2 linked regions of the Homo sapiens genome follow. The protein of the gene in region 2 interacts with the protein of the main gene of each other region in a pairwise test. Each region holds a gene or a part of one and is shown on either strand. Other genes may lie near its edges.

Evidence for each region. The genes of interacting proteins can lie anywhere in the genome.
Region 1: the proteins of MYCBPAP (region 2) and MYCBP interact in binary tests that used the Homo sapiens proteins (3 or more experiments, as listed by UniProt).

Annotation. Positions count from the first base shown.
Region 1 is NC_000001.11:38,863,349-38,870,348, forward strand, and holds part of MYCBP (C-Myc-binding protein), read right to left. Parts: intron 4,263-7,000; coding exon 4,214-4,262; intron 3,662-4,213; coding exon 3,532-3,661; intron 1,367-3,531; coding exon 1,322-1,366; 3' UTR 1-1,321. UniProt on the Homo sapiens protein: May control the transcriptional activity of MYC. Stimulates the activation of E box-dependent transcription by MYC.
Region 2 is NC_000017.11:50,504,078-50,511,502, forward strand, and holds the start of MYCBPAP (MYCBP-associated protein), read left to right. Parts: upstream 1-4,361; 5' UTR 4,362-4,468; coding exon of another isoform or gene 4,469-4,597; coding exon 4,598-4,673; intron 4,674-7,425. UniProt on the Homo sapiens protein: May play a role in spermatogenesis. May be involved in synaptic processes.

The DNA of each region.
Region 1 (7,000 bases), on a different chromosome or scaffold from region 2:
CAAAGATAGGTTCTCTAACAACAGGGAGAGAATATATGAAATAGGAATATGTCTATAAAACGACAGTCTACCAGTAAGGAAAATAAGTGATCCATAAAACAAAACATCTGACTGTAGGTCTACCCAAAGAAAGGAAAAAGGACTAACAAACAAGAATATAGTGCTTTACCATTTACAAATCTTTCACATACATTCTCATTTGACCCTCACAACAACCCTGTGAGGTAGGCATCACGGACATTCTACTCATTAAACAGATGAAGACAGTAAATCTCAGAGTAGTTCACTGATAATGCCCAAGGCTCTACAGTTAGTGAGTGATTTGTATTAATATCAGTCTTTGGCCTAAAAATTCAGCACCCCTCTTCCCCTTATACTTGTCCCACCTACTTCACAGGGATAATGAAGATAAAATGAATTCAAGGCTAGAAAAATACTTTGAGGGAGAAAAGCACTATATAATTATACCTACAAACTATGATTTTCCCCAATATATGGCTCATTCCTCTTCTCATCTCAGCTTGTGTGTGAACCCAGAGTTGTATATTGCCTCTGTCCTGTGCTCAGTAAGCAAATAAGGCAGGCAGGGGGTACAGTGTGATCCTGTTTAAAGTTACATAAATTACAATCAGGGTAACTGCTATTATTAGGCAAATTGAAAAACAGCACAGAAAGGCCAGTGTGCAACTAGGACCCACTAAAGCTCAGAGGAAAGCAATGCAAGATTATCAGACAGGCATGATTGCATAGAAGGAAAATGTGGTGTCAGAGTTCAAACTGGCACACACACACACAGTTATCTAAGGCAAAGTGGTGGCAAAGAAGTTATTTGTTCCATGTCACACAAACAAGAGCAGAAGATTCATGGGAACCCGTACAAAAGCATCTTGTGTCACACAGATCTCTCCAGCTGCCTATAGGGAATATACAGAACAGTGTCACCTTCAAAGAATGACTGTACCTGTGTTCATATCCTGAACTGCACCAAGGAATAGCTCCATGCTAAACTGTCTTGGCTAAAATACAACCAGTGCCATCATTCCTAATCAGACTAATAAACAGAATGTCTTTTAAGGTAATGAGTTAGATGGCTGTGTTTAGGTTTTGTTCAGGATTTACTTTGGATTCTCCTGCTTTAAGACCCAAAGAAAGTTATATTGAGTTTTTATTGATGATTCTATGTGTTTTTAACAGAGTGTGATAGGTGAATTAAACATATTAAAAGAGTTCTATAGCATCTGTTCAGAAAAGATTATATACTATACAAACTATTCAAGTCATACAAAACCATTTTTCATTGTCTTTCAAACTGAGAAGAATCCTATTCAGCACGCTTCTCCTCCTGAGGTGGTTCATACTGAGCAAGCTATGGGGCAAAGACAGAGGAATTTAGGTGAATTTTATTCTAAATTGAGTAAAAAATAGTAAAACAAGGTAACTGTTATATTCAACTTAGTTACTGTCAGTAAATTGTATTAATATCAGTTTCTATAACTATCCATTTTAAATCATTCAGTGATTTAAGATTTAATACAATCAAATCTAATGAAAGCCCTTTTTATATAAACCTTTAAAATTGCTTTGAAACTAAAATTTCATTCCAGTTCATGACTGCACTGTTCAAATACTTGATATGCAATAAACTATATCTTCCCAAAGATTCATTTGCTTATAAGGAACTTTCTTCCTCTCCAGCAAAAGTTTACTGAAAATACCCACTGAAAAGTAGATAAAGAGTTAAGTGACATGTCTTAACTTAACCAGCCAATAAACAACTACTAATGTCTTTGAGTTAAAAGGTTCCAAAGAGTTAACTAGCACTACACATTGTGGAATCTTGGATAATTTAAAATAACTGCATTTTCTTTTATGCTAAGTGTGGTTCCTTGCAAGAACACTAGGCTAACATTAGGGTTCTGCCAACTACCTGTTGGAGTTGAGAAGCTTATTAGACTTCACTGTGCTTTCGTTTCCTCACCTATAAAGTGGCTTGTGTACTTGTTTCACTTATCTCACAAAGTTGTTGAGAAGATAAAATATATTATGAGAAATACTTAGAGTAATGTAAAATACATTATGTGATTAAGAATGTGGTAAGACCTGAAAGACTTAAGAGTTGACTAATTTGAAGTTCATGAAAATTCTCACAGGACTTTGAAAAAAGAAAAAACTGGCTGGGTGAGGTGGCTCATGCCTATAATCCCAACACTTCGGGAGGCCAGGCCAGGAGGAACGTTTGAGTCATGAGTTTGAGACCAGCCAGGGCAACATAATGGGACCCCATTTCTACAAAAAGTTTAAAAATTAGCCGAGCATGGTGGCAAATGCCTGCAGTCCCAGCTACTCAGGAGGCAGAGGTGGGGGGATTACTTGAGCCTGGGAAGTCAAGGCTGCAGTGAGACATGACTGCACCACTGCACACAAGCCTGGGTAACAGAGAACCTGTCTCAAAAAAAGAAAGAAAAAACTTTAGCACTAGATAAAATTAAGTCCTAACAAATTTACAGAGGGCCGCTACATATGGCCTTGCAAACTATGAACCATACAAATTCTAAGAAGTGCCATTTACAAAGCAGTCGCCCCATATTGGCCTACTTAAAATCAACTGCTTAAGAACCTCAGAACTGACCATTTACTTATAAAGAACATTAACCAATATTCTCATCCTTTTAGTAATACAGGTTCCTAAGAACCTCTTTTTTTTTTTTTTTTTTTTTGAGACAGAGTTTCATTCTTGTTGCCCAGGCTGGAGTGCAGTGGCACAGTCTCGGCTCACTGCAACTTCCACCTCCCGGGTTCAAGCAATTCTCCTGCCTCAGCCTCCCAAGTAGCTGAGATTACAGGCATGCACCACCAAGCCCGGCTAATTTTGTATTTTCAGTAGAGACGGGGTTTCTCCATGCTGGCCAGGCTGATCTGGAACACCTGACCGCAGGTGATCTGCCCACCTCAGCCTCCCAAAGTGCTGGGATTATAGGCGTGAGCCACCGCACCCAGCCAGAACCTCTTCTTGACCACACTTTGCTTCTTTGCTTGTCCTATTTCCAGTATGTCTTGCGGTTTTCTTTTTTTTTTTTTAACCCCCCTAGATGAAGTCTTGTTCTGTCACCCAGGCTGGAGCACAGTGGCACGATCTTGGCTCACTGGAACTTCCATCTGCCGGGTTCAAGCGATTCTCCTGCCTCAGCCTCCCGAGTAGCTGGGATTATGGGCACATGCCACCATGCCCGGCTAATTTTTGTATTCTTAGTAGAGACAGGGTTTCACCATGTTGACCAGGCTGGTCTCGAACTCTTGACCTCGTGATCTACCCACCTCGGCCTCCCAAAGTGCTGGGATTACAGGCGTAAGCCACCGTGCCAGGCCCGTCTTGTGGTTTTCTTGACAGGGCATAACTTTGGCCTTACATTGTAATTAATTCAAATTGATATTCACCCACCTCCCTCCCCTCCTGTCCATTTCAGTGAGGTTTTCATCATACAATTATTACAGGTAAAATTATTTGAATATGAATTCTTTTTAAAAATTTACCTTTGCTTTCAGTTTTTTATTTTCTTCTACAATAGCTTCATACTTCTCTTTCATTTCGGCCAGTTCTAGGCGAAGCAGCTCTATTTCTGGATTTTCTGGAGTAGCAGCTCCTAAGTGATGCTTTAAAAAACTATTATCAATGTTAAGAACTTACTTCTTAGACATGAATGAAACTAATGAAATAGCACAGAGTAGTATCAATATCCCTGACCAGAGTCACCCACTTTACCACCAATATCTACCCAGAGATCACCATCCAAAAACTCAAGTGAAACTAACTTTCTTGGCCAGGTGCGGTTGCTCACGCCTGTAATCCCAGCACTTTGGGAGGCTGAGGTGGGCACATCACGAGGTCAGGAGTTTGAGACCAACGTGATGAACATAGTGAAACCCCGTCTCTACTAAAAATAAAAAAAATTAGCTGGGTGTGATGGTGGGCACCTGTAATCCCAGCTACTTGGGAGACGTGAGGCAGGAGAATCGCTTGAAGCCAGGAGGCGGAGGTTGCAGTAAGCCAAGATTGCGCCACTGCATTCCCCACCAGGTGACAGTACAAGACTCCGTCTCAAAAAAAAAAAAAAAAAAGTAACTTTCTCAATATTCAGAAGTATTTTAAAGGTTATTATCTATCTAAAAAAATAAGAGTTTCAAAATAAAGCCTTTTTCTGACTTGAAAGGATACTCCAAAGCACTGTTAGGTTTCTCTGGTTCTTCATATAAGGCTACCAACACTGCAAATCAAAAAGCAGAAAAAGCAACAATTGACGTATTAAATTTGAATGGCTGAAATTATGTTCCATTACCCAGTAAATATTAGGTGCCAACTATACGCTGAGCACATTGCAAAGACTATACAATGCTGAACAAGACAGACAAGGTCCCTGTTCTCAACAAATTTACAGTCAAGCATAAAAGATATGCAAGGAACTAGACAGAGGGTATCAAGCAGGAATACTGGATAATGGGTTGCAGTAGCACACTGGAAGAACACCTAAGCAAACCTAGGACATCAGGGAAGGCTTCCTAAAGGAAGGCAAAGACCTGATACCTAGGGGTTGAGTGTTTCAGATAAAATGGGAAGGCCCAGGAGCAAGAAAACAATGTATTGAGGAACTGAAAATTCAAGTATGGCTGGAGATGTAATTTGGCAGGAAAGGAAGCTGGAAAGGTGGTCATGGCCAGATTAGGGAGAGTCATGCAAATTTGGTTGGCACATAATTAAACAGTTTAAAGGAAGGGAGTGACAGGATCCACTCTTAACTGCTATGTGGACCAGCTGGAGTGGGACAAGGATAAAGACAGGAAGAACAGTTAAAAGGCTGATGTGGTAATCCAGTTTAAAAAGACAGCAACCTGCAGTAGAGTGATGGGAGTGAGAGAACAGTGAGAAGAAAGAAATTCGAGAATTTAGGAAAGAATCAACAGGACTATGGTAATTACCGGAAGAAGCTCTGAATTCAAAAATGGTCTTAAAAATTAAGTTTGTTTTGCTAAATAACCACCAACCAAAAACTTTACCAGTAGTCAACATGCTCAAATCAACATTAAAATAAGATATACTTGAGTGGTTTCATATCTAATCACTCATATGAGCACTGCCTTGCTCTTCATCTATGGAACAAATTCCTCCTAGAATTTACTACTTAGATAAAAAACTCTAAATCAGTGGTTGGCCTTTTTGTGCATGGAACCCTTTGAAAAATCTAATAAAAGCAAAAAAAGTAAACACACACAAAAAAAATGTGGCTGGGCGCAGTGGCTCACACCTGTAATCCCAGCACTTTGGGAGGCCAAGGCGGGCAGATCACGAAGTCAGGAGATCAAGACCATCCTGGCTAACACAGTGAAACCCCGTCTCTACTAAAAAATACAAAAAATGAGCCAGGCGTGGTGGCGGGCGGCTGTAGTCCCAGCTACTCAGGAGGCTGAGGCAGGAGAATGGCGTCAACCCAGGAGGCGGAGCTTGCAGTGAGCCGAGATCGTGCCACTGCACTCCAGCCTGGGCGATGGAGCAAGACTCTGTCTCAAAAACAAAAAAACAAAACAAACAAACAAAAAAACAGTGATAGATATCTAGACCCCAAGTTAAGTCCTGTTGTAAACCAACTTACATACTTCCCTTTTGTTCTTTTAGAGTTTTAATAACTTACCAAAATAATATACAGTATGAAAAAATCACTATTTTTTGAGAAATTCATTTGGTTTTTTTTTTTTGTTTTTTTTTTTGAGATAGAGTTTTGCTCTTGTTGCCCAGGCTGGAGTGCAATGGCATAATCTTGGCTCACCACAACCCCCGCCTCCCAGGTTCAAGCGATTCTCCTGCCTCAGCCTCTCTAGTAGCTGGGATAACAGGCATGTGCCACCATGCCCGGCTAATTTTGTATTTTTAGTAGAGACGGGGTTTCTCTGTGTTGGTCAGGCTAGTCTCGAACTCCCAGCCTCAGGTGATCCACCCACCTCAGCCTCCCAAAGTTCTGGGATTACAGGTGTGAGCCACCACACCTGGCCAAATCCTCATTTTATAAGACATGAATATTAATACTCTACTCTCTCCTCCTCTTATTCCCCCACCCCATTTCTTTCAGCTTCTCATTTGTCACTGGTACTTGAAAGGTTGATAGTTGCAGAAGATACTGTAAATACAAAGTTTCCTGTGCTGTTCTATAGATGAAATGCACTTCCTTGTAATCAGACAAGAACTCTATACCCAATCATGCTCCCCTTTTTGCCTTCGCAGCCAGGATTTTTAGAGGTTGATATAGCGCTCAAAATAGCTAAAATGCTTCAGCTTCCAAATGATTTATCATCTTTAGCCATCCTTTCATAGTGTTTTAATGTTATAAACTATTTCAAATCATCTTGGAAATAAGCTGTAAAAATTTAGGCCAAAGTGGCTCATTCCTGAAATTCCAGCACTTTGAGAGGCCAAGACAGGAGGATTGCTTGAGCCCAGGAGTTTGAGATCAACCTGGGCAACACCCCAACTCTACAAAAAAAAAAAAAAATTGGCCAGGCATGATGGCTCACGCCTATAATCCCAGCACTTTGGTAGGCCGAGGCAGGCAGATCATGAGGTCAAGAGATTGAGACCATCCTGGCTAACATGGTGAAACCCCGTCTCTACTAAAAATACAAAAAAAATTAGCCGGGCATGGTGGCAGGCACCTGTAGTCCCAGCTACTTGGGAGGCTGAGGCAGGAGAATGGTGTGAACCCGGGAGGCGGAGCTTGCAGTGAGCAGAGATCGCACCACTGCACTCCAGCCTGGGTGACAGAGCAAGACTCCGTCTCAAAAAAAAAAAAAAAAAAAAATTAAAAATCAGCCGGACATGGTGGTGCGTGCCTGTAGTCTCAGCTACTTGGGTGCCTGAGGTGGGAGAATTGCTTGAACCTGGGAGATTAAGACTGCACTGAGACATGACTGCACCACTGCACTCCAGTCTGGGCGACAGAGACCTTGTCTCGAAAAA
Region 2 (7,425 bases):
CGGTCTGTGGAGGAAATGCGCTTTCTATTTAGGGAGGCTGTTTAGGAGTAGCTGACGACATGCTCAGCACCTGGATGGGTGGAAATAAACAGAGACATGAAGCAATAATTTATGCCGTGTCCTCTGTCAACCTAGCCACCACCTCCTCCTCCCTGGGCTCCAGGAAGTTGCTCAGAGTTGTGGCGCTGGGAGGAGACTGCGGGAGCTATGCTGGTGAAGCGATGCTGTCATCTGAGCTTGTGCTTTACACACACTGGGCTTTTTTTTTTTTTTTTTTTTTTGAGACAGAGTCTTGCTCTGTCACCCTAGGCTGAAGTGCAGTGGCGCAATCACAGCTCACTGCAGCCTCGACCTCCCAGGCTCAAGCAATGCATCCACCTCACTCTCTTGAGTAGCTAGGACCACAAGGGCATGGCACCACATCTGGCTAATTTTTAGAAATTTTTTTGTAGAGACGGGGTCTCACTATGTTGCCCGGGCTGGTCTCAAACTCCTGGGCTCAAGTGATCCTCCTGCCTCAGCCTCCCGAAGTGTTGGGATTATAGGCACAAGCCATCATGCCCAGCCCCCTCCAGGCCTTTGTACCTTCTGTGTCCTCACCTGGAGTACCTGCCCCCTGAACTACCCATTGAACTCTTTATTTAGTGGCCCACCTCCTCTAAGAAGTGCTACCTCCTCTAAGAAGGCCCCCCTCATATCCAGTCTGTGGTTCCTAAATTGCAGCTAATGACTACCCCATGAGCTCACACATTAGAGTTGGAAATCTACTTTCAAATGACCCCACTTTGTGTCTAAAGCACTCTGACCTTCTTCTACCCCCACCCCAGTCGCACATCAGTGAGCTTCAGGGAATCTCTGGAATTGAATACAAAGTCATGTGCAAAATCAGATGTGCAAATGTATGGATAAACAAAATACAGTATACCCATAAACGAAATATTATTCAGCCACGAAAAGGAATGGAGTCACTGATACGTGTTAAGTGAAAAAAAAAAAAACAGACAGAAAAGGCCAAATATTGTATGATTCCATTGATATGAAGTATCAAGAATAGGCAAATCAGTAAAGACAGAAAGGAGCTTAGCGATTGTTAGGGGATGGGGGTCGGGGCTGGGGAATGACTGGTAGAGGGTTTCCTTTGGGGATGATGAAAACATTCTGGATGTAGGTAGTGTAGGTAGTGGTGATGGTGGCACTACATTGTGTGTGTACTAAATGTCACTCAGTTGAATATATTAAAATGGTGACTTTTATGTTATGTGTATTTTACAACAGTTTTAAAAAAAGTCAAATGCACGTTTCTCAGGAGAAGATTCCTAGGTTTGATTGGCTTCTCAAAAGGTGAAGCAGCTCTGATCTGGTCTGGACCCCTTCATGTCATGATGCAGATGGTGATACTGGGACACAGACAGGGGGTGAGACCTGTCCAAGGTCACTCAGGGGCTGGTGGCAGAGCCCAGCCAGGTTGCATGCCTGCCTGACCACATACTCCCCTACCTGCTTCTTCCCTTGTCCTTTGGTCACCAAACCCTCCCGTCACAATCCCCAAGCCTCTGTCCTGCTCCCAAACATGCCACCCACAAGCTGTGTAACTTCCCAAAGTTAAAAGGCCTTCTTCCTGAAACTGGGTGCACGGATTAGAGTTTCATGAGCGTTTGTCTTTTGCTCTAGAGTGGACTCTGAGCTCCTAGAGGGCAAGAGGAAATGTTTCTTATTTTCCTCCATATCTTACAGAGCTTCTGGGACAGCCACGGAGGTGAGCCATTCCTGTCTCCCTTCAAGAAAGAACTTGCCATTCACCCTCAAGGAGGGCAGTTAGCTGACAACTTCTAACAAACATTCTTTGCCCAGAGGACATGCTGGGTTGGCCAAGACTTTGTTAGATCTGCAGCACAGTCTGAGGCTCTCCCAGCCCTTTCCTGCTTCCTCTCCCTCACCGGCCTTGCCACTACCCCCTCTCTCCGCAATAAACCTCTTGCGGTCCTATGTTCATCTCAGTGCTTGCTTCCTGGAGGACCCACATGGCACAGCACCTAGCCTGCTGGATCATAAGTGCTCAGTCGCGAAGTAAACGGAACTGGGGATTCTCTAGAGGGTAGAGGGAAGCCAGAGCCTGGGCCTCGGAGAGCAGGAGAGGGGCTGTCCGTGGAGGATGCCTCAGTCATAAGGAGAGCAAGGTCTAGAGCAGTGTGAAGAAGGGGCCATGGCCCTGGAGCAGGACCCAGCAACGGGCAACACACAGGGAACTCAGGGATTCACCAGCACTGCTGGCATCGTCTCTAGCTCCTCCGCTGTCTGGGGCAGCTCTTGCAAACTCAGAAATGTCCCAGGAGACAGGGTTCAAAGAGCCCTGGCCTTGGACTTTAGAAAACCAGGTTCAATTTGTGCTTCCCGCTAGTCAGGTGACATTACACCCTTCTCTCTGGAGCTCAGTTTCTCCGTTTGTAAAATGGGCTTATAATGTGTCCCCTCCCTTCAACCCCAGCATGATTTTGAGAATTGACTGAGAAGATACTACAGTTTATGGAGGGCACCCTGTTTCGTAGTTTAAATGCACACTCAGGCCAGGTGAGGTGGCTCATGCTTGTAATCCCAACACTTTGAGAGGCCAAGGCGGGAGGATCGCTTAAGCCCACGAGTTCAAGACCAGCCTGAACAACATAGCAAGACCCTGTCTCTACAAAAAATTTAATAATTAGCTGGGTGCAGTGGCACATGCCTGTAGTCCCAGCTACTCGGAAGGCTAAGGCAGCAGGATCATTTAAGCTCAGGAGTTTGAAGCTGCAGTGAGCTATGATTGTGCCACTGCACTCCAACCTGGGCAACAGAGTGAGATACTCGCTAAGAAAAAGAAATACATACATATTCATTTAACCCTGGCAGTGGCCTTGTGAGAGCAGCATTATGACCTCCATTTTATGTATGTATATATGTATGTATGGATGTATGAGATGGGGATCTCACTTTGTTGCCCAGGCTGGAGTACAGTGGTGCAATCAGAGCTCACTGCAGCCTGGACCTCCTGGGCTCAAGCAATCTTCCTGCCTTAGCCTCCAGAGTAGCTAAGACTACAGGTGTGGGCCACCAAAGCCAGCTAATTAAAAAAAAATTTTTTTAGGCTAGGCACGGTGGCTCACGCCTGTAATCCTAGCACTTTGGGAGGCCGAGGCGGGCAGATCACGAGGTCAGGAGTTCGAGACCAGCCTGACCAACTGGTGAAACCCCATCTCTACTAAAAATACAAAACTTAGCCAGGCATGGTGGCACTCGTCTGTAATCCCAGCTACTCAGGAGGCTGAGGCAGGAGAATCGCTTGAACCTGGGAGGCAGAGGTTGCAGTGAGCCGAGATGGCACCACTACACTCCAGCTTGGGCACAGAGCAAGACTCCGTCTCAAAAAAAAAAAAAAAAAAATTTTTTTTTTTTTTTAGAATGGAGTCTCCCTACGTTGCTCAGGTCAATTTTGAACTCCTGGCCTCAACCAATCCTCCTGCCTCAGCCTTCTAAAGCACTAGGATTGTAGGCCTGAACCACTGTGCCCAGCAGAGAAAACCGGCTCTCTAGGTCAAGGCATTGGCTCAAGAACACACAGCTAACAAGCCGACATAGCTGGGATTAGAACCCAATTGTCTGGCTCTAGAACCCCTTCACTATTTGAGGTACAATTTACTGCCTGACTACTAGTGCTAAACTTTGGGTTGGGGGCAGGGCCTGAGGCAGCTCCTGCTCTCATACATTCTGAGAGCCAGTTTGACAATAGGCAACTACACAAAAAACCGAAATAATCCCAGAATGCCTCAGGGCTCCAGGGGAAGGCGAAAAAAGCGGGTGCGTTTATAAACTTAAAATAATCAGAGGCAGCATCTCCAAGGACTGTGAGAATGCCCCAAGTCAGGGCAAAAGTTTTGGCTGGTTTGGGAAGTGATGAAAGGCCAAAGTGGCTGCAGCGAGCGTGGACCCGGGAGGTCTCCAGGCGCGTTGGTGCGAGTTGGGGACGGCAGGCAGGGACACCTAAAACCTACGGTACGCCACGAAGGGGTTTCAGCACGTCCTGAAAGGCCCGATCCCCCCCCAGAACCGCTGTGAGGGGGGCAGAGGGAGGTCCCTCGACAGGATGTGGCCTTAGTCGAGGAAGGCGGGAAGCAGGGGCTGGCACCCCCGACGCCCCACCCGCCCCCCGTGGCCTAGCAGCAGGGCGGGGCGAGGCGGGTCATGCACCCCTACCAGCCAGCCACTCCCACCCAGCCCTCGGCTCCCGCAACTCGCGGGGGTCCTCGCCCGGGTCCCCCGCCCCGCCCCGCCCGGCTGGTGACGTCACGGCGCTCGTCGGCGCCGCCTGTGGCGTCACAGGCCGGGCCCGCAGGGCTTTCTAGGGGTCCGTCGCTCTTGAAGCCGCCGGCGGCGGGCGCGTGCGCGGCCCGATGAAGAAGGAGGTTTCCAAGCCGTCTCCGCCCAAGTTGATCGGTGGATGCGCGCCCCCGCGCGGGGCACCGGTTGCTGTGGACGCAGTGGCGGCCGTTGGCTGGCGGGTGCGGCGCAGCCTCGGTGTCTCTGGGCCGGCGGTGCAGGGCAACGTTTCATGGTGCCGGGCGGCACCATGAAGTCTCTAAAGAAGGATTCCCGCCTCAGAATAACTCCGACCAGATTATTAGAGGCCTCAGAGAATGTCAAAGGTTGGCGCTGGCTGCCTTGGGCGCTCGGGAGAACCCGAGAGGGGAAGCGGTCCCCGGAAAGAGTTCAGGACACGGGGCCTGGAGGATGGGGATGGCACCAGGGATGGAGGAAAGATCACGGGGAAGTGGGGTACTGGGCATAGGACCCTTAGGGATGGGGGGCAAGGCAGGAAGAGCCTACAGCGCACTGGGCCTTGGGGATGGGGACATAGGAAGTGGGAGACTGACAGAGGGGCCTCAGGGACCACTGGCTGGGGAGATGGCCTTGCGCTACCTCTAACCACATCTTAGGGTGGCATGCAGGAGGCAGGATCCCCGGACTGGATGAAGTGCAGAAGAGCCAGGAAAGAGTTTAAGGGTAGAAGGGCCAGGAATTGGGGTCCTTGGGAAGAGGAAAGAATGAAGTGTTGAAACCAGCCACCTTGATGGGATTATTTGGTAGAGGAGGGTCGGGGAGCGGGGCAGGCGTCACTTAGGATTCCTGCTGGAAAAACCCAGAAGAAAGGCCTTGCTTGGCTAGTTCTCTTTTTGACTGCCTTTTCCTACCACGTGCACTTTCCAGCTGGATGACACTTATCCAGCTCCTTTAGCCTGGAAAGAATCGCTAGATATGACTGCTTCCTACCCTCTACAGCTTTCTTCTGGTTGCACCTGGGAGAGCCACAGGGCGTCTGATAGCGGACTGACTTCCATGGACATGTTCTCACTTGCAACCCACCCCCTTTTGATCTTTTTTGGCTGTTTCCATTTATTTATTTTTAAATTTAATTTTTAGCTTTTTTTTTCTGTGTGTGTGTGTGTGTGTGTGTGTGTGTGTGTGTGTGTTTGTAAACAGGGCTCTCGCTGTGTTGCCCCAGCTAGTGTCAAATTCTTGGCCTCAAGCGATCCTCCTGCCTCGGCCTCACAGACTGCTAGGATTCCAGGCATGGACCACTGCGCCCAGCCTATTTTTGTTTACTGAGAGCTGATTTTGTGTGGTACTGTGGCTCACCAGAAGGGTATCGGTATTAACTGTGTGACCCTGGTCCTCAAGAAACTCAGTCTAATGAACACCTGGAGGAGTAACCTGACAAAGGTAGAAATACAAATGCTGTGATGTAGGTGCCCATCGGGCTTAAGGGGGCTCAGAGCACCTGAGCCAGACCAGGGATGGTTGTAGGGGTACGTCTTCTGAAGAAGGTGACATCTATGGCAGACAAGAAAAAAAAGGAGAGGTTTGCTTCTCTAGGTCTAGGAAGCAGCATGAGTTTATGGAACTGTAAATGTGGGAACCAGAAGAGGCTGCACAGGTGGGTAGGTCAGGGGCCAGACCATGAAAGGGCTTTATGTACTAGGTCAGAAAGCCTGGATGTGCTCTTGCAGGCCCTGGGGAGACCCAGCCTCAGAGTTGTGAAAGCTCATTGTGAGGAGAGGGGACCCTCAGAAAACTAACAGGAGCTTAGTCGCTTTTCAGTATGGCTTTATGTTTCTTCACGTATAAAAGTCCAACGTTGAGCCGGGCATGGTGGTGCACATCTGCAGTCTCAGCTGCTCAGGAGGCTGTGGCAGGAGGATTGTTCCAGGCCAGGAGTTTATGATCACACCTGTGAATAGCCACTGCATTCCAGACTGGGCAACACAGTGAGACCCCCATTATTAAAAAAATAAAAGTCCAATGCTGTTTTATGACATACTATATATATATATGTATGTATTTTATATATATTATGTATATGTGTATATATGTGTGTGTGTGTGTGTGTGTGTGTGTATATATATATATATATATATATATATATATATATATGTATTTTGAGACAGGGCCTCGCTCTGTCACCCGGGATGGAGTGCCGTGGTACAGTCATAGGTCACTATAGTCTTGAACTTCTGGGCTCAAGTGAACCTCCTGCCTCAGCCTCCCAAGTTGCTAGTATTACAGGTGCACACCACCATGCCTGGCAAATTTTTTTTTTTTTTTTTTTTGTAGAGACAAGTTGCCCAGGCTGGTCTTAAACTCCTGGGCTCAAGCGATCCTCCCACCTTGGCCTCCCAAAGTGCTGGGATTACAGGCATGAGCCACCGTGCCTGGCCCGTGACATACTTTTTAATAGTTGAGAGAGAGGGAATATCTGGTCTCCTTTCACAAGGGCAGTCAAGGGCTTTCCTAGCCACTGCCTCCTGCTCACATAGTTTCTGGGAGATCGTATCAGATTTGAACTGCTGTAAACAAATCAAGGAAAGATTTTTCACTGCATATTTATTTTTAATAAGCAGAAAATTTAGTTTGTTAATTAACCCTTGAGTTAAGAACATGCACCAGAGTGAGGAGGGAAAAAAAATGAAGTGTTTAGCATGCAAGATATCTTTTTAAAAATATCTCAGGGGAGCCTCTAATGTTGTAGAGCAGTACTCTCCCCCAGCCCCCATACAAGGCAGCTAATGACCCAGTGTCATTTTGTAACCTTGTGCGATGTTTCTCCAAAGTCTCTGACTCATAAGCAAAAAGGAAAGCAAAAATAGTGACTTAAACCTGTTTCTCGGGACCTGAGAGCCCTTTTGAGTCCTAGTACCCTCCCTTCCTGCTATGCACCACCTCCCCACCGCTGTCTTGTTGCTAAGAAACCAAGAACCCTCCTAGCAATATTAGATTCCCCTCCCCAACCAATTAAAGCTCTGCCCTAGTAGGGACAGCCCCTCCATGGTTCCCCCAGCCCAACCCTAAGGTCAGAATTTCCCAAAGACTTTAATCAACACTAAAAACGAATAATACTTA